Homo sapiens: one gene and its partner. The protein of the gene in region 1 interacts with the protein of each later gene in a biochemical or structural test. Each region holds a gene or a part of one and is shown on either strand. Other genes may lie near its edges.

Region 1 (3,815 bases):
TAGAGATTACAGCGTATGTGTGGAAAGCAAGTTCTAGTGCTAACTATTTTAGACACAGAAAATGTCTCTCTATATTATTTTATAACCTACTTCCATATATTTAGAAGCTTCTTAAATGGGCATGTCAAACCCTTAATGAGAAGCTATTTGACAGCATTAGGAAATTAAAGTATCACACAAAAACTTTAAATACCAAAACACATTACATAAATACATTTTCCATACAAAGATATAAATCCCAATTTTATTAAGTGAACCCACTGACTTAAATAAATGCAACTGGCTTCCTAACCAGTGAAAACAAAATACATACATAGGAAATTCCTTCTAAAATATTAACAGAAGCATTGCTATCAACTGTTGAATCAATCACCTGGCAAAAACACGTATAAAATAGTTATTTAAAAATAGACCACAATGACAGATAAGAGAAAAAGGTAAAATTAATCAAGATGAATTTCAGGAGGAGACTTAATCAATGCAGCATTGAGAAAAAAAAAAAGGGATTATTTAATCAGCATTCAAACCAAAACTTTCCATATGCTAGACAAGCACAATGACTTCTCAATTTCGATGTCACTTTGCCAACTTCATGTACAATTAGAATTAGAAATTCAAGCAGAATACTACTAGAAACATGCACTAACTCAGTTTTTAATACTCTATTATGTACACACTAAATATTGCAATGGAAACCTCTGAGAGCATTTTCTTCAAAAAATAAAAAGTGCCAAAATAAGTGCTATCTAATATTTAAGTATTCCACACTAGCATTTGTAGCCCCAATTAGTTTTGCAAGGTCGGGAACAGCATTAAATTACCTACCTTTGATGGTTTAAGTCTCGGAAGCCCAGTTCTATAAATCTTGAAGGGCCTTTCTCCACAGAAGTTAAATAATGTCAACAGTTTAGTAAGAGTTTTGATAGGGAATAATTTAACAAAGCATAACATTTGAGCTACAAACATGCAATATTTACAAAAGATAAAATTTCTTGAAGCTGCAATATCTTAATTTATGTAGTATCTAAGAAAATACTAGCTCATGTGGAGAAAAAGTCTAAATTTTGTAATAAAGAAAAAGCTACTACCCCACTCTTTTACTAAGCAAAGCCAGGCCAAAACTGGATTAAGAATCCAAGTTATGATCAGATGGAGTTACTTCTGAAAAAAAATTTTAAATTGCAAAAATATCATTAATGCTTGTAATAATCAACTTGTTACAATTATTATTTTTTTTTTTTGAGACGGAGTCTTACTCTGTCACCCAGGCTGGAGTACAGTGGTGCGATCTTGGCTCACTGCAAGCTCCGCCTCCCGGGTTCAAGCTATTCTCCTGCCTCAGCCTCCCAAGTAGCTGGGACTACAGGCTACAAATTTTAAGATACTGCAGCTTTAAGAAGAAATATAGAAACCCTTTGTTGGTTTCTTGCATCTGTTTTAACAAAAAAAAGTAAAGAATTCAAAAATAAAAGACACCAAAAAAATACCCCTGACTTACCACTGTTAGCGGCTAACATGTCAATCATTCGACCAGGTGTGCAAACAATAATTTCAGCACCTCTTTTCAGCTCAGCAATCTAATAAAAAAGATGAAACTTTATAGTCTATTACTAATGCTTACTTAAACACTAAAAAATACTGCATTTAGTTCTTGCCTAGTCTAATTAGAAGACTTCCAAGCTTCCTGCTTAATTATTTTGAATCTCGGGGCACTACTAAAGAAATAGCAACAACGTGACCACATAGTGCCATAAATTTGAAACAAATAAGAACTAGAGAATTCTGCAAATTTGATTTGCCACTATCCCTCAAAACCAAGAAATGAACTTAAGAAAGCAGTTTAAAAAAAAAAAGTGATAATCTCTTGAGCCCAGGAGTTCAAGGTTGGAGTGAGCTATGATCACATCCTTGCACTCCAGCCTGAGCAAGAGCAAGACCCTGCCTCAGAAAAAGAAATTTCTAAGTGACCACATAGACTAGTGTTTTTCAAATTGAGGGTTGCCACATTAGTGAATCATGAAATCACTTTAACAGTCATAATCAGCTTTTTTTTTTTTTTTTTTTGAGACAGGGTCTCACTCTGTTGCCCAGGCTCTGTTGCCCAGTGCAGCAGTGTCATCATAGGTCATTGCAGCCTAGATCCTGGGCTCAAGTGACCCTCCCATCTCAGCCCCTCCCCCCACCACCCCACACACCCTCCCAGTATCTAGGACTACAGGCACTCGCTAATTTATTTACTGTTTTAAGAGATGGGGTCTCACTACATTGCCCAGGCTGGTCACAAACTCCTGGACTCAAGTGATTCTTCCATTTCAGCCTCCCAAAATGCTGTGATGATTACAGGTATGAGCCATAGTGTTCAACCACAACCAGCATTTTTTAAATGAAATGGAATGGAAAATACCAGAAGTCCCTTAACATCATAAAACTTTTGTTTGGCATTTATATAAATACAACGTGCAGGCATGTACCATGTTATTTTGTAAGTGTATTTCTACAAACTACAGTCATGAAAAATCATAAAGATAAACTTAGAAAATGAAGTAATTTGAAGTAATTAAAATAGCACTGGAGTTAACAAAAGCAAATATTCTTGAAGTGTGTTCTTGTAACAATAGTCCTAAGAAACAGTTTTGTAGTTAAGTTCAGAAAACGTCACTTAATTTATCCCATTTATCTAGCAACACAATATACATTAGCTTATTAAGAACAAAGAAGTCTTACAGGAAAGAAAGTGGTTTTAACTTTTTATACTCCAACATTTCCAAAACTTATCCAATCACAGAACCTACTTTTTTGCCTTCTTCTAGTTAAGCAAAATATCTGAAAACTATTTCATTCTTTAGAAGACAGCTGAAGGGCTGGTCACAGTGGCTCACGTCTATACCTTTCGGAGGTGTTACAAAGGGAAGCCAAGGCAAGCAGATTGCTTGAGCCCAGGAATTCAAGACCAGCCTGGGCAACATGGCAAAACCTCGTCTCTACAAAAAAATACAAAAACTAGCCGGGTGTGGTAGCATGCGTCTGTGGTCCCAGATACTCAGGAGGCTCAAGAGGGAGGACGGCTTAAGCCCAGGAGGTCAAGGATGCAGTGAGCCAAGGTCACACCACTGCACTCCAGCCCGGGCAACAGAGTAAGATGCTGTCTCCAATAAAACAAAACCAAAAAACAACAACAACAACAACAACAAAACACCTCTGATATTAATGCATCCCAGTAATCACCATCACTTCCGCCACCCCCCAAGATGGAGTCTTGCTCTGTCTCCCAGGCTGGAGTGCAGTGGCGTGATCTCAGCTTACTGCAACCTCCGCCTCCCAGGTTCAAGTGATTCTCCTGCCTCAGCCTACCGAGTAGCTGATATTACAGGCAGGCGCCACCAAGCCAGGCTAATTTCTGTGTTTTCAGTAGAGACGGGGAGTCTCGCCATGTTGGCTAGGCTGGTCTTGAGCTCCTGACCTCATGATCCACCCGCTTCGGCCTCTCAAAGCGCTGGGATTACAGGCATGAGCCACCGTGCCTGGCCACCATCACTTTTTAAAGATGTCAGCATAGATTAGAGAAACAAATGCTCAGAGATCAGAGACCTAGGTTCCAGGACAAACTCTAGAACGTATTAACCTAATTGGTCAACTTAATAAATCTTTCTGAATATTTCCTCATATGTAAAATGAAAAAAAAAATCTGCTTTCTCAGGCAGGGGAAGAGGGAGGAGGGATAATCTATGTAAAAAGATTCAAAAATTCTAATCTAGCATTAACATAGTATGTTCTTTTTTGCCACAACTATATTGGGTCATAATTAACAAAAATTA
Region 2 (3,815 bases), on another chromosome or scaffold:
GAGATGAGAGTGTGGAGGCCCCGGATAGAGGCTGGATGAGAGATTCACGGGGTCAGATGCTGCTGGGAGGACAACCAAGACGAGCACTGTGTCTGTTGGATTGAATGACACAGGGGTCATGTTGACCTTGGTAGGAGCTGTTACTGAGTCGTGTTGGGAGTGGAAGCAGGTTTGGAAAGGGTTGAGGAGTGAGTGGGAGGTGAGGAAGTGGCAACAGTGAGTGGAGACAACTCTCTCAGGAAGTTTGCCTGTATGGGGGAGGAAAGAGAGCAGTGAGTGGATCTGGAGGAGCGTCAGGTCAAGTTGGGAGACCGTGGATCCTATTGAGAAGGAGAGGTTGATCATATAGAGGAGAAAATAGATAAACAGTGGTATAAAATTCCTGGAAAGGCATCATAGGAAGAATCCAAATCATAGGTGAAGCAGTTGGTTTTGGGAAGGAGAGAAAGGGATAGGTGCTGAAGTTTGGTTAGGTTTTTATGTTTGAGGATGTTACCCAGTTGGATGGCTTCCCTTTCCTCTGTGAATCAGGAGGGGAGATCAGCCTCTGAGACGGGTGGCCAATGGAGAGTTATGTCCTAGTCTCAGGCAGGCCTTTGCTGATGTCTTGGCTGTAGTAAGCCCCAGGTTCCTGTAATGCCCTCCTCTTCCTCCTTCATGATATTCAGTCAACAAATAGGGAATGCTATGGGTGCCAGGCACTGTTCTAGATGTTGGTGTTACACTGCATTGTAACAAGTTGTTCAATGACTGTTTCCCGCTGAACTGAGAACTCCTCCAGAGGAAGAACCATTTCTTTTGTCTTCATCACTCTCCCCTGTGTCTAGCACAGTGCCTGGCATATGGGAAGCTGTCAGATTAGACAACTCCTGACTTTGAGCAAGACTCAACCCCAACCCCTGTGGTCTGATGCCAGGATCTTCAGGCTTAGTGACTACTTCTTTCACTTCCTGCCCCGAGGCCCCTGCCCAACTCCCTGCCTTGAGCCAGAACCCAGTTGGCTCTTTGCATCCTTTGGTAACTCCAATGAGAGGGGAGAGATTAGGTTGTGTTCCTTCTTTAAAAAATTGGACTGAGATCATCTTTTTGACCTCGAGCAGTGGGGTGTTGGTGACCACACCACCTCAGGCTAGATGCTCAGGCTTCAGCACTTAAACAGTTTCACCATTCTTCCTCTAATACTTCCTGCCCTGGTGACCAGATTGGCGGGGCTGCCCTGAGGTCAACTTGGCTCTTCACTGTTTCAGCCTCACAGTGCATGCACTCTTCTCAGATCATATCTCCTAGTGCCTAGGAGGTTGGTCTCTGCCTGACCTTTGAGAAACCTGGCTCTGTACACTACTGCTTCAGAGAAGGGTTTGCCATCCTTAAGGTCCTCTGAGCATGGCAGAGTCGTGGAGTCTTCTGCTTCCTGACACCCATGGAGATGCCACTCTTGAACAGTGTCTGTGCCAAGATGTTGGTTTAAGCTACCTCCCTCGCTCCCTTTTCCTAGATCTCAGCCCTCACCTCTCCAGGATTCCTGTCCCATCTTACTTCCCACTCAGGGACCCTTTGGCATTCTCTGACACCCTCCCAAACACTCCCTTTGCTCCTCCCCAGCCCATTGGGCCACACAGCCTTTCTTGGTATTTATTCCCAGCCAGTTCTGAGCTTCCTGGATCCTCCCACCCCCTGTGTCTGTCCCGTTCATCCGTCCTTTCCTTCTGCAACAGCCCAGTCTGTGTCGGCACACGGCACACTCTCTTTGGTAATGGGAATGTGAAATTGAATAAGACACCGTCTCAGATATTCTGATAGAATGTGGTTCTGGGTGTTGTGAGACACGAAGGAGAGAACAGTCACTTGATGGTGGGGAGAGAACAGGAAAGACTGCTTAGGAGCTGTAACTGCTGAGGTTAGTTTTGAAATACAAGCAGAGGTTCTCACAAGGGGAGACAGAATTCCAGGCCGAGGGAGCAGTATAAACAAAGACCCAGGGCTTTAAGAGTGTGCGACATGTTTCAGAATCCGCCACGCTTCATGTGGCTAGAGTATAAGGTATAAAGGAGGCGGGAGGTGGGGAGGGGACTGACAGGTTATAGAGGCCGGCTTAAGAGGGCTCTTGGGTGTCTGCGAACGAGTGCAGGCGTTATCCGAAAGGCAGTGGTGAGCCCTCTCATTTTCTGAACCAGGGAGTGACACAATCTGGTTTCCATTTTTGGAAGATTACTGTGGTTCTGGGAGGAGGTAGAGCTATTTTTTTCTTCATTTATTCCAGTGGCTGTGAGTTTTCTCATTGGCCAGGAGGAGTCACACTGAGCAGATCAACAGCCCCACGTGAGGCAGACACGTGCGCAGAAACCTTTTTCATCTTACAGATGTGTGGGTAGCATAGCACTAGTGTCTGAGGAACTAGAGACGTAGAAAGGTGAGCTATGGGGCCGGGCGCGGTGGCTCACGCCTGTAATCCCAGCACTTTGGGAGGCTGAGGCGGGTGGATCACCTGAGGTCAGGAGTTTGAGACCAGCCTGGCCAACATGGTGAAACCCTATCTCTACTTAAAAGAAAAAAAAAAAAAGAATTACAAAAATTAGCTGGGCGTGGTGGTGGGCACCTATAATCCCAGCTACTCAGGAGGCTGCAGGAGGTTGCAGTGAGCTGAGATCGTGCCATTGCACTCCAGCCTGGGCGCACCGCACCTGGAGAGATGGGCAAGCCCTGCTCAGGTAGCTGCAAGACCTGTGCTCAGCGCTGAGAACACAGAGGGAAGGGGGGTAGTGGTGAGTCAGGGAAAGAAAGAACTCCTTAGTAGAGGAACAGGGAGATAGGGAACTCTCAGATAAGACATCAAGGAGAAAGGTCTGTACAGTGGGAATGAGAAAGAGCACAGTGCAGTGTTTGTTGGGATGGTCAGTGAGGGAGAATTGTCTGTTGGGGGAAGGGTCGGGTAGGGCAAGAGAATCAGTGAGGCCATCGAGGGAGGAGAGAGTAATGTGGTAGGGGCTGTCTGAAGGAGGGCTTGCATGGAGGGCTCAGGATGAGAGAGAAGTGGGCAGTGGTTGGTCAGGGAGAAATAACTGAAATCGGGGGCTGGTGAGGGTCCAGGGAGAGAGCACTTTCTCTTGGGGGTCCGGGAAGGAGAGCAGCAGAGCAACTGGAAGGTCAGGGAGAGTGGGGAGGATGGAATGGGGCCGAGGGTGGGTCCCTGGGTGGCGGGCTGGAAGGATAGTTGGGACTCAAATGGTTGCGGAGAAACTGACCCACGAAGGGCTGTGAGGAGGCAGAGGGAGGGGTCTGGAGGGGGAGCTGTCCTTGCGGAACAGGACGTCCTCTTACCTGAGAGGCAGGTGGAGTTTGTTTGGGGCACCATAAGGCATAGTAACGTAACCAAAGTGTTTTCTGACACTGGCAGAGGAGATGCCAAAGCGAAGCCTGGAGGAAATGGGGACTGATTCATACATTCATTCAGCAAATATTAATGGAGTTCCTGCTCTGTGCCAGGACTACGCTAGGCACTAGGCATACTGTATTTAACCAAAAAGGCAAAATCCTCACCAACATGGAAATTATAAATTATAGTCATGAGGAGACAATCATTAGACAAAGTAAATAATAAATTGGCTTGTCAGATGGTGACAGGCGCTGGGGAAGAGTTTAGGGATTGCTGAGGAGGGGCGGAGGTAGCCTGTGGTTTTAAAATGGGTGTTCAGGGAAGGCTTCACTGAGGCTGTGACATTTGGTCAAAGATCTGAAAGGCTGGGCCGGACGCAGTGGCTCATGCCTGTAATCCCAGCACTTTGGGAGGCCGAAGTGGGCGGATCACGAGGTCAGGA

The links.
Region 2: the proteins of DDX46 (region 1) and APBB1 form a complex in vitro, tested with the Homo sapiens proteins (one study listed by BioGRID).

The regions. Positions count from the first base shown.
Region 1 is NC_000005.10:134,786,275-134,790,089, reverse strand, and holds part of DDX46 (probable ATP-dependent RNA helicase DDX46), read right to left. Parts: intron 1,578-3,815; coding exon 1,499-1,577; intron 875-1,498; coding exon of another isoform or gene 822-874; exon of another isoform or gene 476-821; intron 1-475. UniProt on the Homo sapiens protein: Component of the 17S U2 SnRNP complex of the spliceosome, a large ribonucleoprotein complex that removes introns from transcribed pre-mRNAs.
Region 2 is NC_000011.10:6,412,377-6,416,191, reverse strand, and holds part of APBB1 (amyloid beta precursor protein binding family B member 1), read left to right. Parts: intron 1-3,815. UniProt on the Homo sapiens protein: Transcription coregulator that can have both coactivator and corepressor functions. Adapter protein that forms a transcriptionally active complex with the gamma-secretase-derived amyloid precursor protein (APP) intracellular domain.